Regions from separate parts of the Homo sapiens genome. Here regions 1, 2, 3, 5 and 6 are each linked to region 4. Evidence: fine-mapped QTL for protein levels in blood plasma. A gene starts in region 4. Each other region holds a variant in brackets. All regions are shown on one strand. Distances are between the middles of the regions.

Region 1 (5,077 bases), 43 kb after region 4:
ACAGGCAGTGAGTAGTTGAGCTGAGATTGAACTCACGCTGTCCAGAATCCATGCTATTAGTTATAATAGTGTACTGCCCTATAGCTTTCTGTTTCACAGCTACATGGCATTACTTTGTATGGATGTATCATTATTTGTTAAACCATTTAACTTATTTCCAGTGTATTGTTCTTATAAACAATGAATACCTGTGTACCTCTAATTTTGTGCACATGTATCTTTTTGTAGAATGAATTCTTAAGAAATTGAGTTGCTAAGTCAATGCTTAAGCCCATAATTAATTTTCTTACATATTACCAACTGTCCTCCAAAAAGGTTGTACCAATTTAGAATTTTACCAGCAGTAAATTCAGCAGTTAGGACCCATTTTCCTAACACTCTCGCGGACACTGGGTATTACCAGTATTTTTTTTAATACGTGCCAATCAAATGGGCAAAAAGAATGGTTTCTCACTGAGGTTTAAATTGCATTTCCCTAGTTATTCTTGAGATTTTTCCTTTCCTTTCTTCAACAATTACTTATTGAGTGCTTCATATTTGTAAGGGACAATTGCAGGTACTGGAAATGTCACAGTGAGGAAAAGTGACAAAGCCCCTGCTGTCATGGAGCTTATTCTAATGGGAGATGTCAGGTGCTCAGCTGAGCTGGGAGAGAGAGAGCTGAGTTGTCAGGTGTCAGAGGAGCCAATTATAGCAGCAAAACAAAAATAAAATAGTTCAGCTTTTAATCTCTTACTACGACGGTATAATCAAGAGGCTAAAATGGGAGGAAGGGCAGACTCTGCCTGTTCCATTTCCCCACATAGAGTGAGTATACCAGTCGAGGGTCAGGTAATCAGTGCAGACTTAGGGGGTCGCCTTACCATTGAAGAAGCCCCAAATGAAAGGCTCTAGCAGTTTTATGGACCTGGGGGTGGAGGAATCCAAGGGTGGGGAGAATTCATGAGGAAAATGAGGTGAGAGGGCTAGGAGTGGAAAAGTACAAAGTACTGAGTTAGCGTGGGGAATAGTGTCTTTAGGGCTAGGAGTGGAAAAAATACTAGGTACTGAGTCAGAGTGGAAAACAGTGTCTTCAAGGCAGGGAGTGGAAAAGTGCTAGGTACTGAGTCCGAGTGGAGAAAAGTGTCTTCTCTATGATGAGGAGGCTTCAGCAGAGGTGCCTGAAGACCTCACCCCAGAGCCTCAGATAAAGAGACCTAAGAATGAGGGTGCCTGGGCTAAGATTGCAAGTATGTGAAAAAGCATGACTGGCGGGAGGCTGAGATCTTGATTGCAGCCCCCTTCAGAGACTGCCATGCACTGACTGTGCACCAAGTCTGCTGTAGAAAGGGCAACTTCCTCAGCAAGGCTTGTCAGATTAAGCCTCTTTAATTGCCTGTGGTCAGGTCTGAAAAATCACACATAGATTTTTAATCAGAACCCAGACATCTCAGGAGAGACAGACAATAACCAAACATACCGTGTCATGTCATGTCATGATAAGTACCACAATAAATATAAGTCAGCATGAGGGACAGAATGCCCAGGATGCTATCTTCAATAGAATGGTTAGAGAAATCTCCCTGGGAGGTAGCATTTAATGAAAGACCTACATGAAGTGAAGGAGAAGCTATGAGACTGTCTGGAGGAAGAACCTTCTGGACAGAGGGAACAACATGAGAAGAGGACTTGAGACAGAGTGTGTGATCTTTTGGAGGAATGTCAAGGGAGGCAGTGTGGCTGGGGAGAGTAAGCAGGGGAAAGAGGCCTGATAGGTACTGGGGACCCAATTACATGAGGTCTTGTAAGGCCAGGGGAAGGACTTTGGATGTAGTTCTCAGTGTGAGGGGAAGGGATCTGGATATATTTTTCAGTTTGGTGGAAGGCATCAGAGGCTTCTGAACAGGAGGATTATGTGATTGGAGCTGTATTTTTAAGGGATCATTTTGGCTTGAGAAACTAGACCCGGGGACAAGGACGGAGCAGGCAGATGAGTTAGGAGACAATTACATTAGTCTCCTCTACCCTTTTCTTAACATATTGGAGTTCAGCTCTGGCTGTAGTAGTTCTAGATCTCCTCAGACACACTTGTGTAGAGCCTCTGTTGGGTATTTTGGGTACACAAATGATTCATCTTGGTTATACAGATGATTTAGATGATTGTAGACAGAAGAGGGTTGTCTGGTCATTCCCAGACAGGGGAGCATTCCTTGAGATAGAGTAGAGGAAGGCTGAAGGGGAGGAAGACAGTACCTGTTGCTATCTAGATAGAGACATCCAGCAGGAAGTTGAATACAGGTATCTGAAACTCTAGTGAAAGTTATAGGCTGGCAATAAGCACCTGGGAGTTATTAGCTTTTACTTGACAGTTGAATCCGTGGGGCTA[G/T]AGGAGAAAAACCAGGAAAGTATGGAGAATAAGAAGACCAAGAACATGCACTCAAGGTTACCAAAATTAAAGAGTGATTTGAGAAAATTAACAAGGAAATCAGAGATTGGGAAAGAATAGAGCATTTCAATGAGGAGAGATGCCAACACTTGCATTTGACACAGCGGTCAAATGAGTTGAGATCTGAAAAGAGCTCAAGCCTTGGCCATGGTGTGAAGTCACCAACAACCTTTGTCAGGGAGTTTCAGTAGAGAGGTGGGGGTGGGAGGCTGGGAATAAAGGCAGCAATTGCTGCTTACTCTTTCAGGGAGTTTGACTCCAAGGGAAAGAGAAACTAAAAGCAGTAGCACAAGGTTTGTGTTTGAAGTAATGGAGGTGAACCAGGTGAATAGCCTGGAGGCCGAGTGAAGTGAGACAGGACACTGCAGATTTGGAATGTCACCAGTCCGCACAACTGAATAATTTCCTCCAGAACTGCTCAATTGCCCAGTTGTAAGAACAGATATGTAGACCAAAAGTAGAGTGTCCCCAGGGTAAATTTTATAGAGACAAAGGGGTGTGTTTATTGAAGTTGTGGAAAGGAATAATTACAAAGACATACTATTGTTGCATTGTCCAATATAATAACCACTAGCCATATGTGACTACTTAAATTTCAATTAATTAAAATTAAATAAGATTAAAAATTCATCTTCTCAGTCATACTAGCTATGTATCAATTGCTCAATAGCCACAGGGGCTGGTGGCTATCATATTGTTCAGCACAGAGACAGAGCATTTCCATTATCACTAAGAGTTCTTGTGGAAAACACTGCACTACAGGGTCTGGATAAAGCTGAGGTCTTGATTAAGTTGAACAACAGTTGTAGAAGGAGTAAGCAAGAGCAAAACCTGGATGAATAGGAGGTTGTGGACGGAGATTAGTATATTGAGATTAAGATTCTAGGGACTGAGCTGCTCCAGGTGAAAAGTTTCAGGGTTATGTCATAAGAAGGTGGGGGGCAGCTGCTGAAATAGTCTGCGGGTGTAGACCTGTGGAGTTGACAAGATCAAAGAAATTTGAGGCAAGGTTGTTAGACTCATTCATGAAGAAGTCACCCAAATTGTTAGCAAGACCTTGCATCTAATGCCAAAATCCTCATTTAGCAAGGTGGTAGTGACTTAGTAGCTACAAGCAATGAGAAAGTCAGACACCTCAAAAGGGGAAGGTGTTGCTCAAAGTCCCCACAAAGTGTGATAAAACAAACAGTAGCTGGGGCTGGAGCAAGTGGCTTCCTTTGGGTGAAGCCAGATTTCACTGAAATAATAACCTCAGGGAAACAGTCAATGAAGGGGTTAAAGATGTGGGAGAGTTTCCTTGTAGTAAGTAATGGAATGAGGCTTTCAAAGGGCCAAGTAAAACTTTGGAGGAAGTTTAGTAAAAGAAGGAATTTTTTTTAGTACAGATAAGCATAGGAACATAAAGAAGAGATAATTCTTAAACATATAAGATATGCATTTGGGGATAGCAGCCAGGGAACACTGAAGTCCCAGTGGGGTCAGAGACTTCATAAGGCTAGCAAATTACAGTTTTTGAGTGGCATTCCAACAGTAGAGTGTATTGCTCAGGAAGTCCTTAATTATCCTTTGAAACAAATTCCTTCAGCTGATTACGAAGGCATCTAGCTGGATTCTTGAGCGACTTGTTCCTGACATCATAGCAACCCATTGTAACTAGACTTCGACCATTCCTCTTACCCAAGTGCTGGGGAAGGGAGAGATTCTCAATGCTTACCCACCTATGGAATCCCAGTAAGTCCAGTTGCTAGGTGGCTTGAGGTCTGGGGTCATAAAATGGAAGGCCTGAAGTCATTTGGTGATCACAGACCTTGAGCCAAACTTTCCCCATTTAGTCAGAGAAAGGATTAGCAGCATCCCCCATGCCTGGCTCTGTGTGAGATCATGGAAGCCAGTGGTTGGTGAGGTGCTATGGAGTATAAATTGCAAAATACTTTCAGTTCCACTCAGAATGGATTTCAAAGTGATTTCCACCCCATGGGGAGGAGAGGGAGTCTGAGGAGGGATGGATGGAAAAAAAATTTTCATGTCATTTTCTGTGATCCACTCTGGAGACAGAGGCAGAGATTCTCTACAACAGCTGCTCAAACTATAGCTCTTGTTAAAATGGAGGTTCTGAATCAGTAAGTCTTGGGTGGGGCCAGAGATTCCGTGTTTCAGACCAGCCCACATGTGACGTGAATCTCATTGGTCCATACATCACACTTTCAGTTGCTAGGTGAAGAAGGGAGCACTCGATGAGTGGAAGAGAAAGCCGTTGTAATCTTTGGGAGAAGGGGCCTGGGTCAGCGGAGTTAGACTGGTCTGTGAGTGGACAGAATGGATGGGAAGGAAAGAAGATACTGTGAGGCTCTACAGAAAAAAAAAAAAAAAAAAATATATATATATATATATATATATATATGTAAATCAAGAAGACAGAAGCAGCTAAAGACGAAGTCATTTCCAGGTCCAGAAGGCACAACTGACAGCTGAGTAATAACATAACATTGACTGTTAATTGGCAGAATTTTTAACTGTGTGTTTGGTTTCTCCATCAGGTCATCTGTCCTATATTACATGACAATTTAGACTAAAACCAGTATTTCCTCAGAGACAATGCTAGAAGCTTTTACAGTAGGGGGCACTCTTGCATTACATTAAGAGCTCAGCAAA
Region 2 (5,077 bases), 400 kb before region 4:
AGCAAAATGTAGCACCTCAAAGATGACTCATTCCTCAATCTGTGTTTGTTTTTTATTACAAAACTAAAAGCACAAATGTGAGTGACTCAGAATATAAGGTTTTTATTCACAGATGACCTGATCATGTATGTAGAAAATCCTAAAGAATTCACACAAAAAAAGCTACTAAAGCATTGTGCATTTGGCTAGGTCACAGGATACAAGGTCATTATATCAAAATCAATTGTATTTTTACATACTGGCCATAAACATTTGGAAACTGGAAGTTAAATATAAATACATGAAATAACATGAAACATTTTAGGATAAACTTAACAAAGTATGTGCAAGACCTAAACACTAAAAAATATTTCTGAAAATATTAAAGAAGATCTAAATAAATGGAGAGATATCCCATGTTCATGGATTGGAAAACTCAATATCATTAAGATGTCAGTTCTCCCTAAAATGATCTATAGATTCAATGCAATCCCAATCAAAATCTGAACAGGCATTCTTGTAGGAATTGACTAGTGAATTATAAAATTTATGTGAAAATGTAAAGTCCTGGAATAGTAAAATCTTTTGTTTCTTTTTTTTTTTTTAAGGAGAGCAAAGTTGAGGACTACATAATTTCTTGACTTATAAAGCTACAATAATCAGTGCAGTATGGTATGCTGTCAGGGTAGAAAATAGATCAACAGAACAGAATAGAGTCCAGAAATAGACCCACATGTATGTGGTCAAAGATGCCAGGTAAGTCAATGGGAACAGAATACTCTTTTAATATTGTTGAACAACTAAATAATCACATGGAGAAAAATGAACCTCAATCTTGACCTCACACTGCACAGAAAAGTCTACTTGAAATGGGTCATAGACTTAAATGTAAAAGCTAAAACTGTCAGTCCTTTAGGACAAAACATCAAAGAAAGTCTTCACAACTTTGGGGTAGGTAAATATTTCTTAGACACATAAAGCATTAGCCCCATAAATTTTTTTTCAATAAATTAGACATCATCAGGATTAAGATCTTTTGCTCTTAAAAAGATGCCATTAATAAAATGAAAAAGTGGCCAGGTGTGGTGGCTCACGCCTGTAATCTCAGCACTTTGGGAGGTCAAGGCGGGTGGATCACAAGGTCAGGAGCTCAAGACCAGCCTAGCCACTATGGTGAAACCCCGTCTCTACCAAAAATACAAAAATTAGCTGGGCTTGGTGGTGGGCGCCTGAGTCCCAGCTACTCAGGAGGCTGAAGCAGCAGAATCGCTTGAACCCAGGAGGCAGAGGTTGCAGTGAGCTGAGATCATGTCACTGCACTCCAGCCTGGGCAACAGAGCAATCAATCAATAAATAATCAATCAATCAATCAATAAAGTGAAAAAGCAAGTTATGTTCTGGGAGAATACACTTGTAAAACACATATTTCACAAAAGACTTACATCCAGAATATATAAAGAACTTTCAGCAACTTAATAAAAAGACAAACAACTCACTTTAAAAGTGAGAAAAAGATGTGAACAGATACTTCATAAAGAAGATATATGAAGATATATGAATGGCAAATGAAAATATACTCAATAAAACTGGTCATCAGAGAAATTCAAATTAACTTAAAAGAGTGGTTAAGTTGGTTTTGTTGTTGTTGTTGTTGTTTTGTTTTGTTTGTCTTTTAGAGAGGATCTCAGTCTGTCACCCAGGCTGGAGTGCAGTGGGGCAAACATGGCTCACTGCAGCCTCAACCCCCTGGGCTCAAGTGCTTCTCCTGCCTCAGCCTCCTGAATAGCTCAGACCACAGCCAGCCAATTTTTAATTTTTTTGTAGACTCTGAATCTCTCCACATTGTCCAGATGGTCTTGAACTCCTGGGCTCAAGTCATCCTCCTGCCTTGGCCTCCTAAAGTGCTGGGATTACAGGCATGAGCCACTGCACCCAGCTAAATTTAAAAATACTAACAATAACAAATGTTGACAAAAATGTGGAGCATCTGAAACCCACACATTACTGGTAGGAATGAAAGAGGGTAAATTCCCTTTGGAAAAGAGTTTGAGAGTCTCTCAAAATGTTTAACATACACTTATTATATGACTCAGCAATTCTACTCCTGGCAATTTTCCAAGAGAAATAAGGATATGTCAACAAAAAGATTTGTACCCAAATGCCCATGACAGTTTCATTTGTAATAGATCCAAATTGTCAATAATCCAAATGGCTATTGACAGGATAATGAATAATAAAACTGTGACATATCCATACAATGGGACACTACATGACAATATAAAAGAACAAAAGACTTATATACACAACACCATGGATAAATCTGGAAAACATTATGCTGAAAGAAGACAACACAAAACAATACATTCTATATTATTCTGTTTGCATGAAATTC[T/A]ATGCCAGACAAAACTAATCTATAGTGACAAAAAGATCAGTATGGGGTGTATTGACTGCAAAGAGGTGCAGGGAAATTTTCATGGTAATAGATATATTCTATATCTTGATTGCATTGGTGGTTATATTATATATATATAGTCAAAACTCATTGAACTATTTGCTTATAATGATTAGGTATCAATAAATTTAATTTTTGCCTGGGCAATGGTGGCTTACACCTGTAATCCCAGCACTGTAGGAGGCCGAGGCAGGCGGATCACTTGAGGTCAGGAGTTCAAGACCAGTCTGGCCAACATGGTTAAACCCCGTCTCTACTAAAAATACACAAATTAGCTGGGCAAGGTGGCACATGCCTGTAATCCCAGCTACTCGGGAAGCTGAGGTAGGAGAATCACTTGAAGCTGGGAGGCAGAGGCGGAGGTTTCAGTGAGCCGAGATCGTACCACTGCACTCCAGCCTGGATGACAGAGCGAAACTCCGTCTCAAAAAAAACAAAGTTAATTTTTGAAAAATAATAAAGTGAAGAAAACCTTAAATGAAAGAGACTTTGGGCACTCATAAAGAGGTTTGTTTATGAAGTGATTGTAGTATTATTAAGGCCAACTTATCAAGTACTTTGTCACTGTAAACAGAATAGCAAGCAGCCTTAGGGAATTGGCAATAGCTTAGTTCATGGGAATTTGCATTTCATTTCAACAAAAGAATTACGGACATGACGATATTATGTTTATTAGACAAAAACAATATATTGGTTAAGATTTCAGCCCATGGAGTCAGACTGAGCCGAATTCAAATTACTACAGGTTGACTATCCCTCATCCCAAACGCTTGGGACCAGAAGTGTTTTGGATTCAGGATTTTTTCAGGTTTTGGAATATTTGCATATACATAATGAGATATCTTGGGGACGAGACCCATGTGTAAACAGGAAATTCATTTATGTGTCATATACACTATATTAAGGAAGGTATTAAAGAAGAACTAAATAAATGAAGGTAACTTTATTTTTCCCTTGGGGACGCTGAAAAAACTGTTGTGCACCTGTATTTTGACTGAGACCCATCACATGTAGTCAGGTGTGGAATTTTCTACTTGTGGTATCATGTGGGCTTTCAAAAATTTCAGATTTTGGAACATTTTAGATTTTGAATTTTTGGATTAGGGATGCTCAACCTGTATCTCTGTATCCTCGGACAAATTGCTAAACATTAATATATCCATTCACTTTTCTGTGAAATCAGGATGCCAACGTCATCTATGATATAGGATTGTTTTTAAAAAGTACTCTGTGTTTTGCAAGACATATAATAGCTTAATAAATGTTAGTCATTATTCTTAAGTTATAGCCATGGCTCTTCCCAGTACCCCTGTGAGGTAAACAGGGATGGTACTATAATCTCCAGTCAGCGCTGGAAATCAAGATAGGATGGTAAAATATTATTACTCTCCTCAGCATCATAAGCCTTTTTACAGCAGAGCTGGAATCAGTCCCTAGAGCTCCAGAATTCTATTTCTATACTCTTGGCATTACACCATTCTTTATTTCCACTTGCTATAAAATGTCAGGGCACGAGAAGAGGACAGGGCCACTGAGGCAGACATCCTATGGTTATAGCTCAGTAAAGATTTAATCTAAAGGCCAGACTGGTTCCAGGAAGTGCTGAAAGATTATTCCAGAGCAGTGCCACTCAGTGTGTGGTCCACAAGCTGAACTGTTTCTGTTTCACAGGGAAATAAGAATAAAAATTGAGAATATGTGTTTAGAAACTTTTATAGCAATTTGACATAGTGATTTTATTCTTTTTCTTTTTCTTTTTTAGAAATGGGGTCTCACTGTTGCCCAGGCTGGAGTACAGTGGCTACTCACAGACACAATCCCACTACTGATCAGCACTGGAGTTTTGACCTGCTCCATTTCTGACCTGGGCAAGTTCACCCCTTCTTAGGCAACCTATGGTCCCCTGCTCCTGGGAGGTGGGAGGTCACTATATTGATTCAGAATTCAGCGTGGAGACCCAATCAGCATAGAGCACTATAGCCCAGAACTACTGGACTCAAGTGATCCTCCTGCCTCAGCCTCCTGAGTAGTTGGGTCTATAGGCACAGACTAGCATGCCTGACAACATCGTGATTTTATATCTGTTGAATTTAAAAATAAAAACTGTGTTTGTATTGTCTATGTTATTTTTAACCATTTATTTTTCCAGAAACTTAATTGTATTTTATTTTACAAAAGTATCAGTCTGTGACAGATTTGAAAATAAACAAACAGGTCAAGGGAAAAGACACCCTTGAGTCTTGAGAATGAATGGGCAAGAGTGGAGAAAAGAAGGTGGAGAGAAGGGTGATAGTTCTTGAAAACCAGGCAGTTCCTTTACAGAATGGATAAGGGATGCATAGGACCATTTGAATTATTCACTGAATTACCAAATTACTATCCAAACTAAATTTATTCAAGACAGACCTAAAAAGAGACATCACGGTGTGGGGAAGGTAGTAAGATTAGTAAGAACTGCAACCACTTCCTTTTCCTGCTTTTAGTCGTCTCAGCTCTACAGCTACTGTTTTGTTTTGTTTGTTTGTTTTTTGTTTTTTCATTTTGGGATCTGTCAGTGTTAGCATCTACAGCTACTGTTCTCCTCTCCAATTTCCCTCTCCTTTCCAAGGACCATGGTGATTCCCATCAGATGTTAAAGACTGACTT
Region 3 (5,077 bases), 210 kb after region 4:
AAACTTGGCAGTTCTACTCTTCAATGGCTCCTCTTCCAGATAAGGAAATAAAATACAGATGGTCAAGACCAGACCTTGGACCTGTGAGAAAAAAAAAAAAGCCATGACAGGCTACAGTCACAACTGGGACTTTTAGTTGTGTAATAGAAAGCCCTAACCAAATTGGCATAAACAAAAAAAGAGGAAATGTAGTGAGTGGGTCATGTCACTAAAAATCTCAGAAGTGTTCCAGGTACAGCTAGGTATTTTCATCTCATCTTTCTGTTCTTCATTCCCCAGGGTTAGCAATTTTCAGCTTCTGTAGCAGCTTGAAGCTAGGATCTCCTTACTTCCCAAGATATCCTGTAAAAGTTCCAGAAACCACATTTATTGACCATTCCTAAGTCATGGATCCATCCCTGATGCTAGCAGTCCTCCAGACTACATAGACTTAGAGTAAGGGGGGAGTGAATCTCCAGTGGGAAGTCAGGATGCCATTACCAAAAGGAGGAAGAAATAGAAGCAAAGCAGCCAACATTCAAAATGTCCACTACACAGACACTTCACCCAACCATGGCCCAGGTAAAGATATGTTCTCCTGACTCTTACATGGTCTGGAAAAATCTCCCCAGGAGACAGCACAGATAGGAAAATGGGATCAGAACTCTAGGGAGGAATGACATGGGAAATTGGCCAAAATGTCCTGAGTGCTTGGTGTGAGTCTCCTTTGAGCCTCAGGAACCCAGGCTGTTGGATGGGCGTTCCAGAATTTGAGGTCTTGGCCAGGAGATGAACTAGCAATTATTCATTCTCATTATTAAGACCTATATCTTCATCAGGAAATCAACTAGCAATTATTCATTCATTCTCAATATTAAGATCTATATGGAAACTTATCACCTATAATCTAATCCAAGTCTCCAGCTGGAACTCCATGTCTGCCTTCTCTCAGTTCTTCCCCTATAAGCCAACCTGCATGACACCTCCTCACAAATCACTCATTAGTTTTTGGCACAGCATCTTTGCATAGGCCATAGCCCACACCAGAAGGGCCATCAATTTTTATCTCTGCTGTCATTTTCCACCAGGAACATTTAAATTGTTTTCAAAATCCACTTTCCCCTGGAAGTCTTTTCAAATCGTATTCCCACAACACATTTTCTGATCATTCTCGCTTCCTCATTTTTGATGTTTATATACCCAGCTTAAGCTTCCACAGCTCTTTAATTGACTGAAATAGACACTTATTAGTTAAAATTCTGGTTATAAGGGTCAATCACAATTTTTTTCCTTTCTTTCTCCCCAAAAAAATATTTATCAGTCAACTCATATGCCTCAAAAGTAGCACTAGCAGGTGATTTATGAGCATACAACTCACAATTGCCTCCTGACCTCTTCTTGGAGACCCCCAAGCCCTCCTCACATCCCTTCCCAGCTCTCTCTTCACTACTCCTTTGCTGTACTCTAAGCTTCATAAGATCCAGAACCATGCCTGTATTGTTCAGTACTATGTTCAGAATGCCTGTCGCTGGAATATTCATTGAATGAATGAATGAGTGAATAGCAGTCTAGTTGATTTGACCTGTCAACACTACCTATAGGCCTTTGCAGGGAACCGTTTGAGCCAACAACCCATTCTTGAATCAATCACTGTGGCCAAGGTATTCTAGGCTCTGTTTGGACAAGCTTTGGTCACGTGCCCACTATCAAGTTTGAGTGGAACATCATGTAAGTATGAAATCACCTTCTTTCTTCTCTCAGGATGATCATGCACAAGGTGTGCTTCCTACTCTCCTGCACCTCACACCAACACTCACTAGTCAGAAAACAGGCGTGCAGCCATGGTGAAGATGGAAGTCAGATGGAGCTGATCTTTCTAGGAATTCCTGGTACTGCTGGAAGTTGGGGAATGGGGGATAAATTGTGAGGACAGCCAGAGAAGATGGAAGGGAGATAAGAAAACATGGCTGGCGTTAGAGAAGGGAATTGGGCCTGGATCTTCCCCATGCTCTTACCACAGGAACTGGGCAAGATAATGAACTTCATTATCTTGTTCATTATCTGTGTGACCTGGCCCTCATTATCTGTATAAGAGCTGGAAGTCCTAGACCAGAGTGGGGGGGTTTCTAGTCTCTAATGTTCAGTTTAATTCAATTGACGCTACTAAGAATGTGTGCCAAGAGGTGATTTCCATTTATGCTTATAATGAGCAACCGTTTGACTTTAAAATCTTTTAGGGGAAATACCCTAAAAGACCACAAGATGGGAATATTATGGCATAAAAGAGTATGTTAGCTTCTAAGTGCATGCATGTCCTGTATTTGCCCCTCTTTTAGATCTATGTGTCTTTCTTGGTGGTGTTTTCTTTGTGAGCCTGTAAGTCTCTTTGTGTCTGTATGTTATGTTCTATGTTCAGATCTTTTTGTTTGTTTGTGTTTTGTTTTTTTGAGGCAGAGTCTTGCTCTGTCACCCAGGCTGGAATGCAGCGGCCCGATCTTGGCTCACTGCAAACTCCGCCTCCCAGGTTCAAGCAGTACTCCTATGTTTGGATCTTTCTACTAGCTTTTTTTGTTTCTCTTCCCCTTC[G/A]TTTATTCTTTTTCCTCATATTACTCCCCAAATAAAATAAATAATTTGGAAGCATATAATATTGGATAATAATCTCAAGTAAAATTTTATATTTCATTTTAAAAGGAACTGTCAGTTCCTTTTTAAAAGCAAAAGAAGCCAGGGGCAGTGGCTCACACCTATAGTCTCAACACTTTGGGAGGCCACAGTGGGTGGATCATGAGGTCAGAAGTTCGAGACCAGCCTGGGTAACGTGGTGAAACCCTGTCTCTACTAAAAATACAAAAAATTAGCCGGGTGTGGTGGCAGGCACCTGTAGTCCCAGCTGCTCAGGAGGCTGAGGCAGGAGAATTGCTTGAACCTAGAAAGCATAAATTGCAGTGAGCCAAGATCGCACCACTGCACTCCAGCCTGGGCAACAGAGCGAGACTCCGTCTCAAAATAAATAAATAAATAATAAAAAGAGTGTTCTCTCTCGGGCAGATATCTAAATTATCTTCTAACTTATGTTGCTTTTTTTGTGGATCAATCATTATCAATTTAAAGATTCCCTGTCATTGCTCTTAGGAGTGAAATGGTTTTCATCTCCATCTTCCCTGTTATGTGAATTAAAGGCAAGATATTATGCAGAAAATAAAACGCCCAAATGCAAAACTTGCAAGTCAGCCTGCCAAAAGAAATATTAAAGATGTTTAAAGAGGTGACTTAGAGATATGACTTGGTAAGCATAATAATTTATTGATTATAAGTGGATAACGTACAAATTTTGAGTAGAAAATATTCCACACTCATGTGATTTTATTTATATACCTGCTGTGAGGACATAGTACAATACAATTCAGGTTAGGATTTGAAGTAAGGAAAAAAAAATATCATTTGAGACGAGTCTTGAAGGGTAGATAAAATTTGTGGATACGGAGAAGGATCTACTCCTTGGAGGAAAGGTCACAAAATGTCCTGCTAAGCAAAAGAATACTGACTAAAAAAAAATAGTACATAGTGTATGATTTCATTTATGCGATACTCTGTCTCTACTGACAGAAAGAAAGCAGATCAGTGGTGGCCTAAGGCTGCAAGTGGGTAGAGGTTGACTTTCAGGGACACCACAGAACCTTTTGGGAAGGTGGCAGTGGTAGTTACCAAGCATATACATTTGCCCAAATTCAGAACTATACACTTAAAATGAGTGTATATAAATTATACCTCAAAAAAGTTGATAAAAAAAATAACGGAAAGTCCCCAGGTGGGGAAGTCCTGGCTACTCATGGAGATCAGGATGTCATTCAGGTTAGACCATTTTCCCACTTATGGCCCCTCATGTTGCCACAAGCATTACACATCTCTACCATTTCATTTTTAAAATATGTCCATTTTCTCAACCTACATTTTATACCAGTTAACCTGTTGTAACTAGAGATAGGCAACTTAATAGATGTCTAATTTCACTCCTGCATGTGAGTAGGTAGTATAGTGTAATGGTTAACAGTTTGGAATCTCAAGCCAGACTGAGTTGGTTTAAATTTTAATTGCCACCTAATTGCCTTATGACCTTGGGCAGTCACTTAGTGTCCTTGTGCCTCACTTTTCTCTCTCACCTGAGAAATAGAGATCATGAAACTTGTTAAGTTTATTATGAGGATACCATTACTTAATATGCACAGAGTGCTTAGGATAGTGCCTATATACTATGTGCAGTAAATATTAGTCTTGAGTATTATTCTTTTGTAGGTGAGGAGGGTAAGACCCAGAGAAGTCAGAATGATTTTCCTAAAGTAATATATCTAGCTAGTAAAAAAGCTACATCTGCTCCAGGTGATCTGTTCCCCAAAGAGGCCAAAGGAGTTGCTAAAAGAATGACTTTTGCCCTCTGGGCACCACATGCCTTCTAGCTCCTGAGAGGCTGCCAGATCAGCCAGTGGTTTCCAAGTGAAGACACTGGTCCACTGCCTTGAACCCTGGGTGTTCAACAATTGTCCTGACACCTCGGTCCTTACACAAAGAGAAAGTATAGTGTGCAAATAATTGAGAGTGCACACAGCCAACCAGGTTGGAGTCTATTAGACATCTCTGTCCATCTTGAATATTACTGTATTTCTTCTTTCTAAAACAGTGCCTGCTTGGCCAGTAGTGGTCCCTCAATAAATACTTGTTGAATAAACAAATGAATAAAGAAAGAAAATGGGACAAAAATAACTCCTGAGAGGACAGTGGAGGACAGTAACACAGTACCTAGATACAGGCACAGATAAGGGAGGTCAGTGATCTCAGAGAAGTGGTCAGAAAACTCTCACACAAGAAACCACAGTAATGCTGACTTCATAAACTGGGGCTGGAACTTAGCTCTGCATTGTTAACAAAGTAAATTACATGAAGGAAAGCATGTTTTGGTAAGGATTTTAAGAGTATAAACAGGGTTATTGAGGCATAAAGATCCAGAAACCATTAAATTTTAAATTATTCTTGTATTTTTAACTGATGTAGGCCTCCTAAGAATCTTTATCAGGAACAATTTATTAGCCTAATTTGTACTAAT
Region 4 (5,077 bases):
TATACAGCAATGGATAACTAATAAATACTAAAAACTCCTAAATGTATATACTAAATATATTAATTAGAAAATTGTAATATAAAAATACTAAAAGCTAAAACTGTCTGATATTAGGAAGATAATTTTACTACAATATATACCTTTTTTGTGTGTATGAGACAAGGTCTCATTATGTTGCCCAAGATGTTCTCAAACTCCTGGGTTCAAGCAATCTTCCCACCTCAGCCTCCTGAGTAGCCAGGATTACAGGTATGTGCCATTACAGCCAGCTTTCACAGTGTATACTTGATGTACTATTAATGTACTATTTAATGACTACTAAAAAGTTTATGATAACAGGAGAAAATGCTTATGCTATCTTAAATAAAAATTTGAGTGTATGCATTGATACCAAGAAATGGAAATTTGAGTGTGTACACTGCTACCAAGAAACTGAAAAATGACATCCCATACCTTTAATATTTAATATTTATAACAAATGAGGTTTACATGGATTTTTTTATCTCATCTTATTTCTGATGTGTTATGTAGTTATAAATACTATTTTATTTGCACTCCTGCTCTGCAATAATTTTGAAGATAGATAACTTATATTATTGCTGTCTTCATTTTTTAAAATTCTCAAATCCAGATGAAATTATCAAAGTTGATAAAATAATCATTGTTCTATCTTCTTATTTGAAGATTAATAATTGTGTTGATTTTGCTTCCTTGCTCTAGTTAGCAGTGATGTCATCTGCTATTTTTAAACTTCCTTGAAATAATATATGTAATCTACTTCTAATAAGTTTTTCTTATTTAGCATTTTGGTCTAAACTAATTTATAATTATTTAGCCTTATTTCTCCATGTTTAACTTGCTTTAAAGCTCAGCACTGGTGTTTTCAGCCATGGCTTCTCCATTTTAAGGCTATTTTAATTCATTTATTATTCTGGAATATATCCTTAAATAATTTATTTAGGAAGGCTGTCTTGGTGGTGGTATTTCTGTTGCAGTTGTTGTTTTCTTGCCTGCTTGGTGACATATTTCTATTGACTTGACACTTAACTGGCATCTTATCTAGGTAGATAATGCTAATTCAAAATTCTGCAGATATTGTTCTGTTGTTTTTTGCCATTTAGGGTTGAGTAAGATGCCAAGTTGTTTTTTGTTTCTCTGTAGTCATTCTGTTTTCATTTTGTTTTTAGCTTTGCCTTTGGAATTTAAAATGTTCAAAATGATTTGTCTGGATGAGAATCGATTTTCATAACTTTTGCTTTGATACACTAAACAGTTTGAGTTTCTAGATGATGCCCATTTTAATTCATACGAGGAAATATCTTCTAGTATAGTTTCTGCTTGATTAATTCTATGTTTGTCTCTTAGGGACATCTATTAATTTTATAATGCTGCCTTTTTTTCAGACTTCTGTTTCAGAATATTCGCTTTCATCAATGTAATCCTTGGCTATAGTAGGAATGAAATAATAAAAGCAGTAGCTTCTGTCTGCCCTCCTTGGTTATGCAGTCCTTACAGAACATCTCCCCATCTCCCATCCCCCCACCCCAGCTCAGTGAAACTCTCCACACTTTGGTTGTGGAAATTGGCAGGGTTAGGTGGCTACTCACTCCCAATCCACATCCACAATAAATCACTTTTTATTATCTTATCAAAATCTGTAGAATGCCTCTTTATTCTATTTTGTTGCTGCGGAGGTTTGTTTTCTCTTTCTAATTATTTTATTTTCTAGGTTTTTTGAGGGAATTTCAAGAGGGGAGATTTTTTATTCAGGCTCATCTTAACGTCATGTCTGGAACTCAAGCTACTGAATTATATATTCTTTAATACATATAGACCTACGTCAATGAGTTTAAACTGCAAGGAAAGGGTTAAATTTCTTCCTCAAGTGTGGTCAAAATCTGTAGAGAAAAGAGGAACAGCTTCTCTTAAAGAAAGTTAGCTGGGTAGGTATACAGTCATTGCCGAGGAAGGCTTGCACAGGGTGAAAGCTTTGCTTCTCTGCTGCTGTAACAGGGACTAGCACAGACACACGGATGAGTGGGGTCATTTCCAGATATTAGGTCACAGCAGAAGCAGCCAAAATGGATCCCCAGTGGTGAGTAATAATTCTTATTCTTTGCAGAGAAGTTATGAGTTGTGACTGCAGTGAAAGGCTGAGGTTGAAGATGGTGCTTTGATGTGTGTCCTTCACTTAGTTCCTAAGTGGAGAAGCTTTCTTTTTCTACAAAAGATCTTTGGCACATAAAGGCAAGAATTATTTGCAATGCCCAAAGCAGTTCATTGGTGGTAGTTATATATATTTTTAGGTGCCTAATTTTGGTTTTGTAAATCTGTTATTCAAATACTGAATGTTACAGTCATTGATTTTAGTGAAGAATCAGGAATTTTTAAAATATCTGCATAAGAATGACAAATAACAGGGAATATGTTTTTTGTCTACCAGGGTCAGTTTGGTCTGAGGGTGGAGGAATGAGATAGAGAAGGTAGAGGGAGAGAGATCAAGAAAAAGAAAGAGAAAAAAGAGGTATAAGGAGAAAATGCAAAACTCAGTTAATATGTCATAATCAGGCCATGGGAGATTCTGGGCAGGGTTGGGTAGTGGAAGGAGGTAGAGTGATTAAATTAGTTACCATGTATTGAACATGCATGATGTGCTGGGTACTTTACTAGTGCTATTTCATTGAATTTTATTCTTCACAATGACTTTTGGAAAGACATCATCATTCTTTTTGACAGATGGGGTAACTGTGGCTTAAAAAACTTGCCCAAGTTCACACTATTCATAAGGGGTAGAGCTAAAATCTTTCCTGCCCGCTTCGTGGTGCGCCAGAAGGTTTCTCCATGCTGTGGAGACTTCCTGGAAGGAGTCACACCCGCCCTTCTCTTGGGTGGTGGCAGCTGGCGCCAGTCACTATGTATTTATTTATTTTTAATTATTTATTTTTGAAACAGAGTCTCGCTCTGTCGCCAAGCTGGAGTGCAGTGGCGCAATCTCAGCTCACTGCAACCTCCGCCTCTCGGATTCAAACGATTCTCCTTCCTCAGTCTCCTGAGTAGCTGGGACTACAGGCGCCCACCACCACGCCCGGCTAATTTTTGTATTTTTGGTAGAGACGGGGTCCACCATGTTGGCCAGGATGGTCTCGATCTCTTGACCTTGTGATCTGGCCACCTCGGCCTCCCAAAGTGCTGGGATTACAGGCGTGAGCCACCGCGCACCCGGCCGTCACTATGTATTTATAATTACTGTTCTTTGAAAATCGAAGTAACTTTCATCTACCCAGTGCTTACTGGTTTGAGAAAAAGCTTTGTTGCTTTTATTTCAGAAGATTAAAATTTAATTTTCCAGTAAAGATTCCTTTTGCTCCAGTGGAATTTTGAAGCGTTATACTTGTATGAAGAAAAAAAGAATTTCAAAATTTATAATTTTTGTGGTACCATAGAGGGGATACTACTTAATTATGCTAGCACTGTCTGCAGAGGTCTAAAAAACCATAGGCTGCTGTCTATATTGAACTTGTTAAGATTCCTTTTGTTTCACAGTGCCTGAAGATTGGTCATGAACCAGTAATAGCCATTAAACAATGTCTGTTCTCATAAGAGATGAAATAAATACAAATTAAAACAACAGTGAAGTATCATTTTTTCTCTATCAAAGAGATAAATATTAAGTTTTAAAAAGCAAGCAATCAAGAACCCTCTATCTTGCTAAGAAGGGAGGATTATTTGTACCCTAGTTGCGCACTAGTGGTGATATCATCTTTCTGGACAATAATCTAGTGATACATATCAAAAGCCTTTAAAATGTATATGCCCTTTAACCAAGCAATTCACCTTTTAGGAATTTATTCTAAGATATAATAATACATGTTTGTAAAGTTTTAGTGATGGATATTTTTCTTGCTATTGTTTCTAATAAGGAAAATCTTAGAAACAATTTACGTGTTTAAAAACAAGTGATTGGATGATTATGGAACATCCATAATGGAATACCATGTAATTATTTAAAATTCCACTGTAGAACAATTCATAATGTGTTTAGTTAAAGGGGAAAAATGCAGAACGAACAGTGCTATCACTTTTATACATGATACATGTATACAAACAATATTAATCAGAAATATAGGTAGTTTGTATTTTCTACTGTGTGCTTTTCAATTTGAATCCCATCTGTAGGCAGAAAAATAAAGTTAAATATTTAAGATTTAAAAAAAACAATAGCTGGTTTTTTTCAGAGAAGTAACCATCTAGTGATGTGTGATAATTTATAAGTTGTGAGATTCCATAGTTAGGGCTTTAGCCCTTTGCATTTATCTTTCTTCATCTCTTGAATCCTCTTCAAAATACACCCACTCTACCCATAACTCATTAGATCTTGAAAGGCATGTTCTGATAGAATTTTATATTTAGAACAGGCTGCAGCACTCTTCCCTTATTTTACAGAAGTGATTGCATGGCTCTCTAGGGTGAGTTGCATATTGAGAGGGAGGACAGTGCAGTGGCTAAGTGGCCGCACATTGAAGCCAGGCTGCTGGGGTTTGAATACCAGTTCCCCAACTTCCTAGCTATGTGATTTTGGACAAGTTGCTTAACCATTGTAATTCCCAGTTTCTTGTCTGTAAAATGGGAGTATGGTAATATGTCGTAAAGTAGTTGTGAGATTTTAATGAGATAATCCATATCCTGCTAAGTACTCAGGAATTGTTAGTAGTTTTTATTACTATTACTGTTTGGATTAAGAAACAGAGGAAAAGTGATTTGTCCAAGATTATACAACCACTTAATGGCATTACTAAGAACAGAATGGAGGAAGGTTTTTTCCAGCAGAAATGTTCAGTATCCTCTGTGCCTGGCAGGACAACCCCAAGTTGTGCTTTTGGGATGGAGGAGCTGATCTAAAACAAGCAGTACCCAGGACAAGGCCAGCCTCCAGGGAGTGACTGATGACAGTGGGAAGCCAAATGGTAGAAAGGCAGGTGAAGTTAAGGAAACTGAGAGTCAACTTAGGAGCAGGAATGAAGCCTGGAGCAAAGAGCTAGTGCAAGAGAGAGCAGATGACTCAGAGCTACTGGGGCTT
Region 5 (5,072 bases), 2.1 Mb before region 4:
CAACTATACTAGCAGCCCTCAATTCATGTTACATCAGTCAAGTTAGTAAAAACAAGGTACTTATCAATCACTTTCTGGAGGACACTAAAATCTCTTCTGCTCTTACTTCAAAGGACAAATGGATGAAATTCTCCAGATAGAATAAAACTTCAACTAAATAGAAGGTACCGGAAAAATAGAAATAGTGCTTTGGCACACTGAATTTTAGTTAGTTGGGGTTAAAGCCAGAATAGCATTTTGTTTCATATTTAACTCGGGTTCATGTTAAAGTGATCTTTCAAGACCATCTAGTTTAACACACTTATTTCATAGATAAGGAAATTAAGACATGATAAAGTTAAACGACTTGCCCAAGGTAAAGGTACTGAATAGTAGAGCTAGGCCTGGAATCATTCTCAATTCCCAATCAAAACACCACTCTCTTGAATAACTGTCTCACTGTCACAGAATAACAGCTTCTTCAAGGGTCTGTCTGTAAGTTCAATTCCTTGTTCTAAGGAAGCCTTTTGTTCTCATTCTGCCATTTGTCAGTAAGATAATATAATCAGAGACATCAGCTTTACCTCTGGCTGTATCTAAATATGACAATAATCTTGTCAGAAACAGTTACTCTTTCATTTCAAACATTACTGTTAAAAACATTTAAAAATGTAACAATATTAGTATACTTTTTGGGAGGGTCTGTTTAAAAACATTACAGTCTTAAGAGGCAAGTATCCTAAGTTTATAATGGGAAGCCAAACCTAGGCTTGCTAGGGTTCAAAAGACTCCTGTTTATATAACTGTTCCTTAATGTGTGAGATGATGTGTTAACTTTTTGAGAACAATCAAACTGCCTTTATTTTAGGTGTTTCTGGCACAGCTCACACCAGTATCTTATATACAGATAATCAGTATCATATATTTGAATAAAATGTAAAGCAGCTGGAAAATCCAATGACATACCCAAAGACAAGGGGCTGAAATTTGCTCTTGGGGAGAGTCAAGTCTAAAAATGCCACAAAAGAATACCACCTTTCATTTCTACAGTATTTTCACTAACATTTTATTTAAGCCTCACAGCCACTCAGAAAAGAACTGTCAGTAATCTCCACTTTACTTCAAGTGACCTGACACTCAAACCCAGGTCGACCACAAGCAAAATATTCTTTGTACTATTTTTCATCTGTCCATTCATATATGCCATGTACCACAGCCATACTAAGACTCTGAGAATTACATACACATACATATACACATTATTATGCTCTCTACCCTCTGGTAAAGCAGATGTCAAAGTGTGGTCTACAGAGGACACTTTGTACTCTTTGCACCTGGGTCCTCTAGACATTTCTAGATGTCCCAGAGGGCAAAACTCTTTTCATAAGAATACACCTTCACTGGGTTAACATTTGTACTGAGGGTACAAAGGAAATGGTGGGTAAAACTGCTGGCCTCTTGGCAGAAATCAAAATGTGCTTTGGCATTTTGCCATTTGGCAAAATAAAAAATGATAATGTGTTTCTGATTAGGGTGTTTGCTTGTATCAGAGAATTTCTATTTATATCAAAAAGACAAAAAAACTGTCACAAGGTCTGTTCTATTTTTTGTTGTTGCTGTTGTTGTTTTGAGAGGGGGGGTCTCATTCTGTCACCGAGCTGGAGTGCAGTGGTGGAGTCTCAGCTCACTGCAACCTCTGCCTCCTGGCCTCAAGCCATCCTCCCACCTCATCCTCCCAAGTAGCGGGGACTACAGGGGCATGTCACCACGCCCGGCTAATTTTTGGTAGTGACAGGTTTTCACCATGTTGCCCAGGCTGGTCTCGAACTCCTGAGTTCAAGTGATCTGCCCACCTCAGCCTCCCAAAGTGCTGGGATTACAGGTGTGAGCCACTGCACCAGGCCAGGTCTGTTTTTTGTTTGTTTTGGTTTTCTGTTACTGTGGGGATGTTTTTGGTTTATTATTTGCATGCTTTTGTTTGTTTCTGGACTAAAGGAATTCTCTTCAGAAACAATATGTAAGAGTAAAATAATTTTGGTTTCCACTTGCACATCCAGCTTAAAGTTGCTCCTTGTTTGTTAGCTTCCTATTCATGTCCAGCTGATCATGCTCTCTCTGTTCACTCCTGGCTAGTGGGCTAAGATGTAGTAAAAGAGAAGGTCAATAATGATTAAAGCTAATGGTCTCTATTCAGTTCCTTCTATCACTAAACATCTTGGGTGACGACTTGAGAAGGTCAATGATGATTAAAGCTAATGGTCTCTATTCAGTTCCTTCTATCACTAAACATCTTGGGTGAAGACTTGAGAAGGTCAATGATGATTAAAGCTAATGGTCTCTATTCAGTTCCTCCTATCACTAAACATCTGGGGTGAAGACTTGAGAAGGTCAATGATGATTAAAGCTAATGGTCTCTATTCAGTTCCTCCTATCACTAAACATCTGGGGTGAAGACTTGAGAAGGTCAATGATGATTAAAGCTAATGGTCTCTATTCAGTTCCTTCTATGACTAAACATCTTGGGTGCATACTTCTGCAGAATCAGTGCATCTAGCAAAACTACTAGTGATTTAAGCTGATTTTATATTAAATAATGGAGATGGCATGAAGGAAATGTTAGCAAT[A/G]TGGCCATACTATCACTTTCATTATTAACTTAATGAAATAACATTAATTAATAAATTATCCAACTAGTATAATCATGCTCAGAAGTATTTCAGGAGGATTTTAAATAAGAAAGTAAAAAAAAGTTACTTAGAATTAATTTAAATTCTTAAGGTAAAAGCTATTAGCTTTATGATTCTAACAGTCCAAGGAAGAAAAATAGAATAGTAGGTATACCTTAAATTCTAAAAAGTAGAATTTGAAAAATTCTATACAGGCATACGTCAGAGATGTTGCAGAACTGGTTCCAGACCATAACAATAAGACACAATAAAGCAAGTCTCACCAATTTTCTGGTATCCCAGTGCATATAAAAGGTATGTTCACTCTATACTGTAGTCTATTACTTGTATAATAGAATTGTATAAAAACATAAATGTAATACATTAACTTAAACACACTTTATTACTAAAAAAAAATGCTAATGATCATCTAAGCCTTCAGTGAGTTGTAATCTTTTTGCTGGCAGAGGGTCTTGCCTTGATGTCGATGGCTGCTGACTGATCAGGGTGGCAGTTGCTGAAGGCTATACGATGTGGCTGGAGTAATTTCTTAAAGTGACAATGAAGTTTGCCACATCAACTGACTCTTCCCTTCATGAAAGATTTTTCTCTAGTAGGAGATGCTCTTTGATAGCATTTTACCCACATTAGAACCACTTTCAAAATGGGAGTCAGTCCTCTCAACCCCTGCTGCTGCTTTATCAACTACAATTATGTAATATTCTAAATCCTTTGTTGTCATTTCAACAATATTCACAGCGTCTTAACCACTAGTAGATTCCACCTCAAGAAACCACTTTCTTTGCTCATCCATAAAAGAAGCAACTTGTTTATGTTTCATCATGAGATTGCAGCAGTTCAGTCACATCTTCAGGCTCCACTTCTAATTCTAGTTCTCTTGCTAGTTCCACAACATCTGCAGAGACTTCCTTCACTGAAGTCTAGAATGCCTCAAGGTCACCCATGAGGCTTGGAATCAACTTCTTCCAAAATGTTGTTCATGTGATTGAGTCACAAATGTTCTTAGTGACACCTAGAATGGTGAATCCTTTCCAGAAGATTTAAAATTGACTTTGCCCAGATCCATCAGACTAATCACTATCTAGGGCAGCTATAGCCTTACAAATGTATTTCTCAACCTTTGGGTGACCAGTTGCACTGTCCATAAGCAGTAATATTTTGAAAGAAATACTCTTCTCTGGAGTAGTAGGTCTCAGCAGTGGGCTTCAAATATTCAGTGAACCATGCTATAAACAGATGTGCTATCATCCACTCATTGTTGCTCCATTTATGCAGCACAGGCAGAATACATTCAGCATCATTCTTAAGGGCCCTAGGATTTCTGGAATGGTAAATGAGCAGTGGCTTGCACTTAAAAGTCACCAGCTACATTAGGCCCTCACAAGAGAGTCAACCTGTCCTTAGAAGCTTTGAAGCCAGGCAATGACACTTCTCCTCTCTAGAAGAAGTCTTCCATCTCTAGAAAATCTAGAGATGAAAGTCCTAAACGGTATCTTCTTCCAATTCAGTAGAAGGCTATTTGGTCTCCATTAAAACTCTGATGTTTAATGTAGCCACCTTCATCGATGATCTTAGTTAGATCTTCTGGATAACTTGCTGCAGCTTCTACATCAGCACTTGCTGCTTGCCTTGCACTTTTATGGCATGGTGCAGCTTTTTACCCTTAATCCTCATGAAATAACCTCTGCTACCTTCAGATTTTTCTTGTGTAGCTTCCTCACCTCTCTGTCTTCACAGAATTGAAGGGAGTTCAGGCCTTGCTGGGTTAGGCTTTGGCTCAAGTGAATGTTGTGGTTGGTTTGATCTATCCAAACCACTAAAACTTTCCCTGTAACAGCAATAAGGCTGTTTCACTTTCTTATCATTCATCTGTTCATTGGAGTAGCACTTTAATTTCCTTTAAGAACTTTTCCTTTCTGGTCACAACTTGGCTAACTGTGTGGCACAATTTCGATATGCCTTCCTTGCTCAGCTTAATCATTTCTAGCTTTTGATTAAAAGTGAAAAATGTACCTTTCACTTGAACACTTAGAGGCAACTGCAGAGTTATTAATTGGCCTAATTTCAATATTGTTGTCTCTCAGGGAATAGGGAGGCCTGAGGATAGGAAGAGAGATGGGGAATGGCCAGCTGGTGGAATATTCATAACATACACAACACCGATCGATTAAGTTTGCTGTCTTATATTGTTGTGGTTTGTGGCAAACCAAAACAATTACAATAGTAACATCAAAGACCACTGATCATAGATCACCATAGCAGATACAATGAGAATGTTTGAAATGTTGCAATAATTACCAAAATGTGACACAAAGACATGATGACACAAAGACATGAAGTGAGCACATGCTCTTATAAAACTAGTGTGGGCAGACTTGCTTGACTCAGGGTTGACACAAACCTTTGAGA
Region 6 (5,074 bases), 53 kb after region 4:
TTAAGGCAGATCATCCAATGTCCCCGACTTGCTAGGAAACCTCCAACTGGGCCATTTTATGACGCTGTTAGGAAGGACCCAGATGGAGGTCTCCTGCTTCTCCTGAGTGATGCAGGGTCCAGGAGGCTACGAGCCTATGTTGCACTTGAAGAAATATGCTTTTAGCCCTGAAACTGACTCAGTCTCTTGGTTTACCTTTGGATGGAGGATTCTGAAGTTTTGATTTAAAAATACAGGATTCCTCCAGGCTAGAATTCTTTCTTTGATTACAACACATACATGCGCTTGCACACACACACACACACACACACACACACACCATGCATACATGCAGACATACAAATGATATTTATTGTGAGTATAGAACCATTTGGGACATTATTGGTCACAGGAGTGAAAACAAAAAGATATGACACCCCCTCTGCCCTTGAGGACCTTCCAATAGAATCAGAACCCTGTAATGTGCACACATGAAAAACTGGATTTTTAAAAGGTTGAATTGGAATCTAAATTTTATTCCATGGAAATATCTGACTAAATTTAAAATAAAAGTGACTGGTAATGAGATTTATGGGCATTCAGAGGTAGGCAAGATCCCTGAGGGTCAGGGAATGGTTCCTAAAGGAAGGGGTACCTTGTAACATGTAAAATAAATTATTGGGGTTAATAAATGTGGTGAGGAGGGGAGGGCATTCTGGATGACAGGTTCCCAAAACTGTGGTGACTTCCGTAGCTGAAAAAATTTGAGACAGTATCTGGGCTAAGCAGGTGAGAGGACCACAGTGGATCAGCTGTATCTGACGTAAGTGCAGGAGGTATGTCAAAGAAAGCCTTGGAGGCAGAAATGCTTGTGTGTTCACAAGTATTCTTCAGGGACAAGTTCAGTGGAGGAAAGGATTGAAACTAAGCAGTAGCCACTAATAGGAGCCTGACATTTTAAAGTCCTGGCTTTACCCAGGAGGGCATGTGTCTATATTTGACTCCTCTTTTAAGAAGCTGTAACTGCAAGATTCCCTCCTGGAATAAAGGTGGTCTGCATCTACCCTGTCCCATCACTGCCTGTGCTGACCTTGACACCCACATCTGCCTTCTTCTTACCTTGACCCCTTCTCCAGCGGTGATTTCTTGGCTTGCCCCCTCCAGTGACATCCATCCAACTCCTTGCTCCATACCCTGGCTTTGTCACCTCCTTTCTCCCAGTGTCTTGTTGTTCAGATATAACTTGGTCTGTGAACAGCCCACGGGGCCAGTCCCCATGAACCAACTTTACAACTGGGCCAATCTCATCTCCTGCTACTGACTTCTTCCTATTCAGACACTTCAGCCTCTGAGAATCCAGTAAATGGTGGAGCCAACTCGTCCTGTCCCAGTTGCTTCTCCTGTATCCTCTCTTGGCCAGATAGAAGCCTCTCCAAGCTATGCCTGAAGTTCAGTACCTCCTTCAATGTGTAATTAGTTTGATTGGTGGCCACAAGATGGCCATATATGACATGCCCCAGGGCCCTCTGTTACGGCTCCCATAGTCTACAAATTAACAGGGGCTTGCCACCACTATAACCTCATCATGGCTCACCTTCCTGCTGCTTCTCAACTACTGTTCTGCCAAACTTCAACAGGTACCCCCATCTTCAGAAATGTTTCAGCTCTAGCTGCCTCAGGAAGATGGGGCTTGCCTCTCTGGGTTTCCCATTCTATCGCTTGATCAGAGATAGGTTAGACCCTGAGTCAAGGGGCCTTTTTTGCATGTTAAAAGGTAGCAGCCTCCACGTTAGTAAGTATAACCCCTAACCCCCTTTACTGGGAGTGCCAAACTGGCTCAAGTGGAATAGACTGGGACAGACTCAAAAGGGATTAAATATGGCCTGCAATGCCAACAACTTCTTAACATCCCAGAAACAGGGCATGTGTCTACAAATTATAGCTAAGCTAATAGATCAGCTGGTCCTAATTTTCCTGAAATTTGGGATTAGCTACCAGAACTGTTCCCAAAAATGTCTTTAAAGTGGGCGACTCCGTTCTAAGTTTTCCCCACAAAGCCTGTTTTCCAACTCCCCAGAAACTTAGGAGTTCTCATGTAAGGAAGTAGTTCCTGAAGGCGTGAAGGTTCCTCAAGGCATGAAGAAACATCAAAGGTTTTTCAGTAGATGAGATATGCTGAAAGCCATGCAGAGGAAACCTGCTGTGACCTCAGTAGGAAAAAACTAAACAAACAAGCAAATGAAAACTAGAGGTAGGGGCCTGTGGAAGCTGTTCCATTTGTCCAAGTGAGAGGTGTCTGGAGATTATAGTGGACAGAAGAATCATCACGAGAGGAACTTCAGGGCCTGGGAACTGACTGCAGAGGGGGGCAGGATAGCAGGCACGGCACAAATGACTGCACGTGCAGAGCCTCAGCACAGACACCTCACCCAGATTCCAGAATCACGGGCCAGGCTGACCCTCTTCTTCCTGATCATGGTCGGTGTTATCCCCACCTCCATGAAGGCATGGCAGCTCAGTCCAGGCATTTGGCCAGAGGCATGGGCTCGATTCTTAGGTCGCTGCTGAGGCCCTGAGCCTGGGACTTTCTATGGCCTCCTATTGTGGATTTCAGGCTTCTCTGGCCTTAGAGCCCTGGGGAGAGGCTGGCAGGTAAATAAAGAGAAGAGCAGCTAGCAGAAACCTTTTGTAAATGACTCTCCTGGCTGATTGAAAATTTGTGGTCATTTGTAGAGCTTGAGGACCCTCAGCCTCCCCCAGACCACATTCCTTGGATTACAGCTGTACTTCCAACAGTTATTA[T/C]ATGTGTGATGGTTTTCTGTCTAATTCTATGGAAATGGAAGAAGAAGAAGCGGCCTCGCAACTCTTATAAATGTGGTGAGTGAGTCCTTGTCCTCCCCACAGACTGTCACTTTGCACCTACTTCCCAATCGGCTGGCTGCCTTCCGGAGCTTGTTGGCTGAGCCTAGACTGGCAAAAAGTCAGGAAGTTGTTGGGAAAAAAGGTTTTCCCTTGGAGTTTTGAGCCTATACAGACTGGCAGTAGCAGATAATGCTGCTCTTGGACTTCAAAGAAAGGCGACATTTCTAACCTCTGGTTTACAAATGTACTTCTGGTTTCCAGGGAAAACTGATTATTACTTGCTTTATCTACCTCACTTCATGAGGTTACTGTGACATATACATAAAGTAAAATGGTGAAACCACTCCTAAATGTTAAAGATTGTGGACCTGGTGGTGTTTAAGCAGGGATATTTGCTAAATGACCACAAGAATCAGCTTCTCGTCTCTAAAAAAATCTAGGTTTCTTATGAAATAAGTTAGATGAATTATTGCCCATTGACTTATAACAAACAATATTAACTTTAACTAATTTCTAAGTAATACATATCCATTATCATATATACCAAAAATAAAATAATCTATAACTCCACTAATAAGAAAAAATGATTACACAAATATTTTTGGTGCCTATCTTTAAGATTTTTCTGTGTATCAATCTATGTTGTTTTCCATAATTAGGATTATCATAAGGGTTATTTTTCACAATTTGGATAATATATGTACTGTGTTCTAATTTTGTTATACTAAATGTAGCAAGACAATTTTCAATGTCATAAATATCATTCTACAGCATCATTTTTAATGGCTGCAAGATATTCCCTTTTGTGGATACACCATAATTTATTTATTTAACCAACCTCATTTTTTGGACACTTGAGTTAGTCCAATAGTTTTGTTATTATAAACACCCTCCCCACTGACTTCTGTTATAAAAATGTTTCATGGGGACAAAGTGGTCCCTAACTTTATAATAATGCCATGCCTTTTTGTAGTTTGGTCTGGTTCTAAGCTAAGATTGGACTTTATCTCAGTAATTGCCTCCAGTAGTAATTAGTTTGATTGGTGCTAATAATTAAGGTAACCTTCTAACTCACTTATGGTAGAAAGCACAAGATGAGTATTGCCTCTGGCCAGCATCTTGTTTTTCAGTATACTGATTTTAAAATCTAACTAGAAAATAGATGGATGACATTAGCAGTCATTCAATGCATCCTGCTGTACTTTAAAAATAAGAAATTGGGGAGCAACGATCGAATTTAAATAAATTAACACAAAGCATGTGGCAGAGCCATTCAAACTGCCAATGTATGGAGTGTGCTGCGAGATTTCTATGATATAAAAGTATAAAATTCCTAGCACAGATGTAAAGACATATCATGCTTGTCCAGGCTTTGACTTTTCAAGGTGAGAGTTTTGAGCTTCACTTTCTTTCAACCTCATTGCCATTTAAAATTAGTCAAATATGAAGAAGTGACTTACATCTTGGGAATAAGCTGTTTGCTAGATTTTTCTTCACATTAGAATGATCAGCTTACAAATGAAACAAAGAAGGGTTGGAGAAAAAGATTAAGGATGTTTCTTCCTCCATGAGGCAATCAGAAAAAAATCAGGAGACTAGATAGGGGAGATAAAGAGGATATGTGTGTTCACATGAGAGAAGTTAGAAGGTGGTTAAATAAGCTCTGTAGGTACAGATGAGATGGTCAGATTGGGCTGAGTGGCACATACATGACCCCTAAGAATGTAATGAAGAATATTGGTAAGAAAAAGTTATTTATTCAGACAGTCATCCATGCCACTGAGTTTGATCAAAGAGAGAAGCCTTGCTATCACTGTAGGGAGGGAGGTGCAACAGGTATAACTATGCCATTATAGATATGATATATTTGTAAATTTGGATTCTGTAACTTCAGCAATATCTGCCATTGCTTTGTGGGTACTCCTGGCATTGGCTATGTGATAGGTAAAATAATGCCCCCCACAAGACGTCCACCTCCTATACTCCAGAACCTGTAATATGTTATCTTACATGGCAAAAGGAACTTCACATAGGTGATTAAGGCACCAAGCTTGAGATGGTGAGATTAACCTGGATTATCCAGGTGGGCCCAATGTAATCACATGAGTCAGAGAACCTTTCCTAGCTGGGATGGAGAAATGAACTGGAAGAAGGAGAGATCTGAAACTTGAGAAGCTCAACCCAGCATTTCTAGCTTTGAAGATGGAAGGAGGAAGCCATGAGCCAAGGAATG

Alleles and levels. Positions count from the first base shown, and alleles are read on the strand shown. Strength reflects both the effect of a copy and how common the allele is. Not every link is listed here.
With allele A in place of T in region 2, the plasma level of the protein whose gene starts at base 1,954 in region 4 is lower (weak association).
With allele A in place of G in region 3, the plasma level of the protein whose gene starts at base 1,954 in region 4 is higher (weak association).
For the plasma level of the protein whose gene starts at base 1,954 in region 4, G is the high allele of the variant in region 5 and A is the other (weak association).

What was found. PIP is the chance, under the fine-mapping model, that this variant and not a neighbour inherited with it causes the effect. The UK Biobank Pharma Proteomics Project read protein levels with antibody pairs (Olink). The fine-mapping took linkage between variants from a reference panel, not from the people measured, so its PIPs are less certain.
Region 1: its variant is fine-mapped to the plasma level of the CD86 protein (UK Biobank, PIP above 0.99).
Region 2: its variant is fine-mapped to the plasma level of the CD86 protein (UK Biobank, PIP above 0.99).
Region 3: its variant is fine-mapped to the plasma level of the CD86 protein (UK Biobank, PIP above 0.99).
Region 5: its variant is fine-mapped to the plasma level of the CD86 protein (UK Biobank, PIP above 0.99).
Region 6: its variant is fine-mapped to the plasma level of the CD86 protein (UK Biobank, PIP above 0.99). The variant lies in the coding sequence of CD86. If it changes the protein, the assay may bind it differently, which can mimic a change of level.

Annotation. Positions count from the first base shown.
Region 1 is chr3:122,096,716-122,101,792 of GRCh38, forward strand. All of the region lies in intron 2 of CD86 (CD86 molecule), which reads left to right. Among named protein-coding and RNA genes, the nearest start is that of CD86, 44 kb to the left of the region's middle. RefSeq lists an enhancer at 4,345-4,534. The variant G/T (reference allele first, on the strand shown) is at 2,366.
Region 2 is chr3:121,649,803-121,654,879 of GRCh38, forward strand. The region is part of intron 3 of HCLS1 (hematopoietic cell-specific Lyn substrate 1); the gene reads right to left. It also overlaps the pseudogene RN7SL172P. Among named protein-coding and RNA genes, the nearest start is that of HCLS1, 8.6 kb to the right of the region's middle. The variant T/A (reference allele first, on the strand shown) is at 2,372.
Region 3 is chr3:122,264,022-122,269,098 of GRCh38, forward strand. The region is part of intron 4 of CASR (calcium sensing receptor); the gene reads left to right. Among named protein-coding and RNA genes, the nearest start is that of CSTA, 59 kb to the right of the region's middle. RefSeq lists a silencer at 1,066-1,167. The variant G/A (reference allele first, on the strand shown) is at 2,566.
Region 4 is chr3:122,053,409-122,058,485 of GRCh38, forward strand. CD86 (CD86 molecule) reads left to right here and starts at 1,954. Exons shown (of 7, transcript NM_175862.5): 1 at 1,954-2,095. The coding sequence starts at 2,082. It also overlaps a transcript of ILDR1 not described here.
Region 5 is chr3:119,907,428-119,912,499 of GRCh38, forward strand. All of the region lies in intron 6 of GSK3B (glycogen synthase kinase 3 beta), which reads right to left. Among named protein-coding and RNA genes, the nearest start is that of NR1I2, 130 kb to the left of the region's middle. The variant A/G (reference allele first, on the strand shown) is at 2,604.
Region 6 is chr3:122,106,553-122,111,626 of GRCh38, forward strand. It overlaps CD86 (CD86 molecule), which reads left to right. Exons shown (of 7, transcript NM_175862.5): 5 at 2,713-2,856. Among named protein-coding and RNA genes, the nearest start is that of CD86, 54 kb to the left of the region's middle. The variant T/C (reference allele first, on the strand shown) is at 2,782.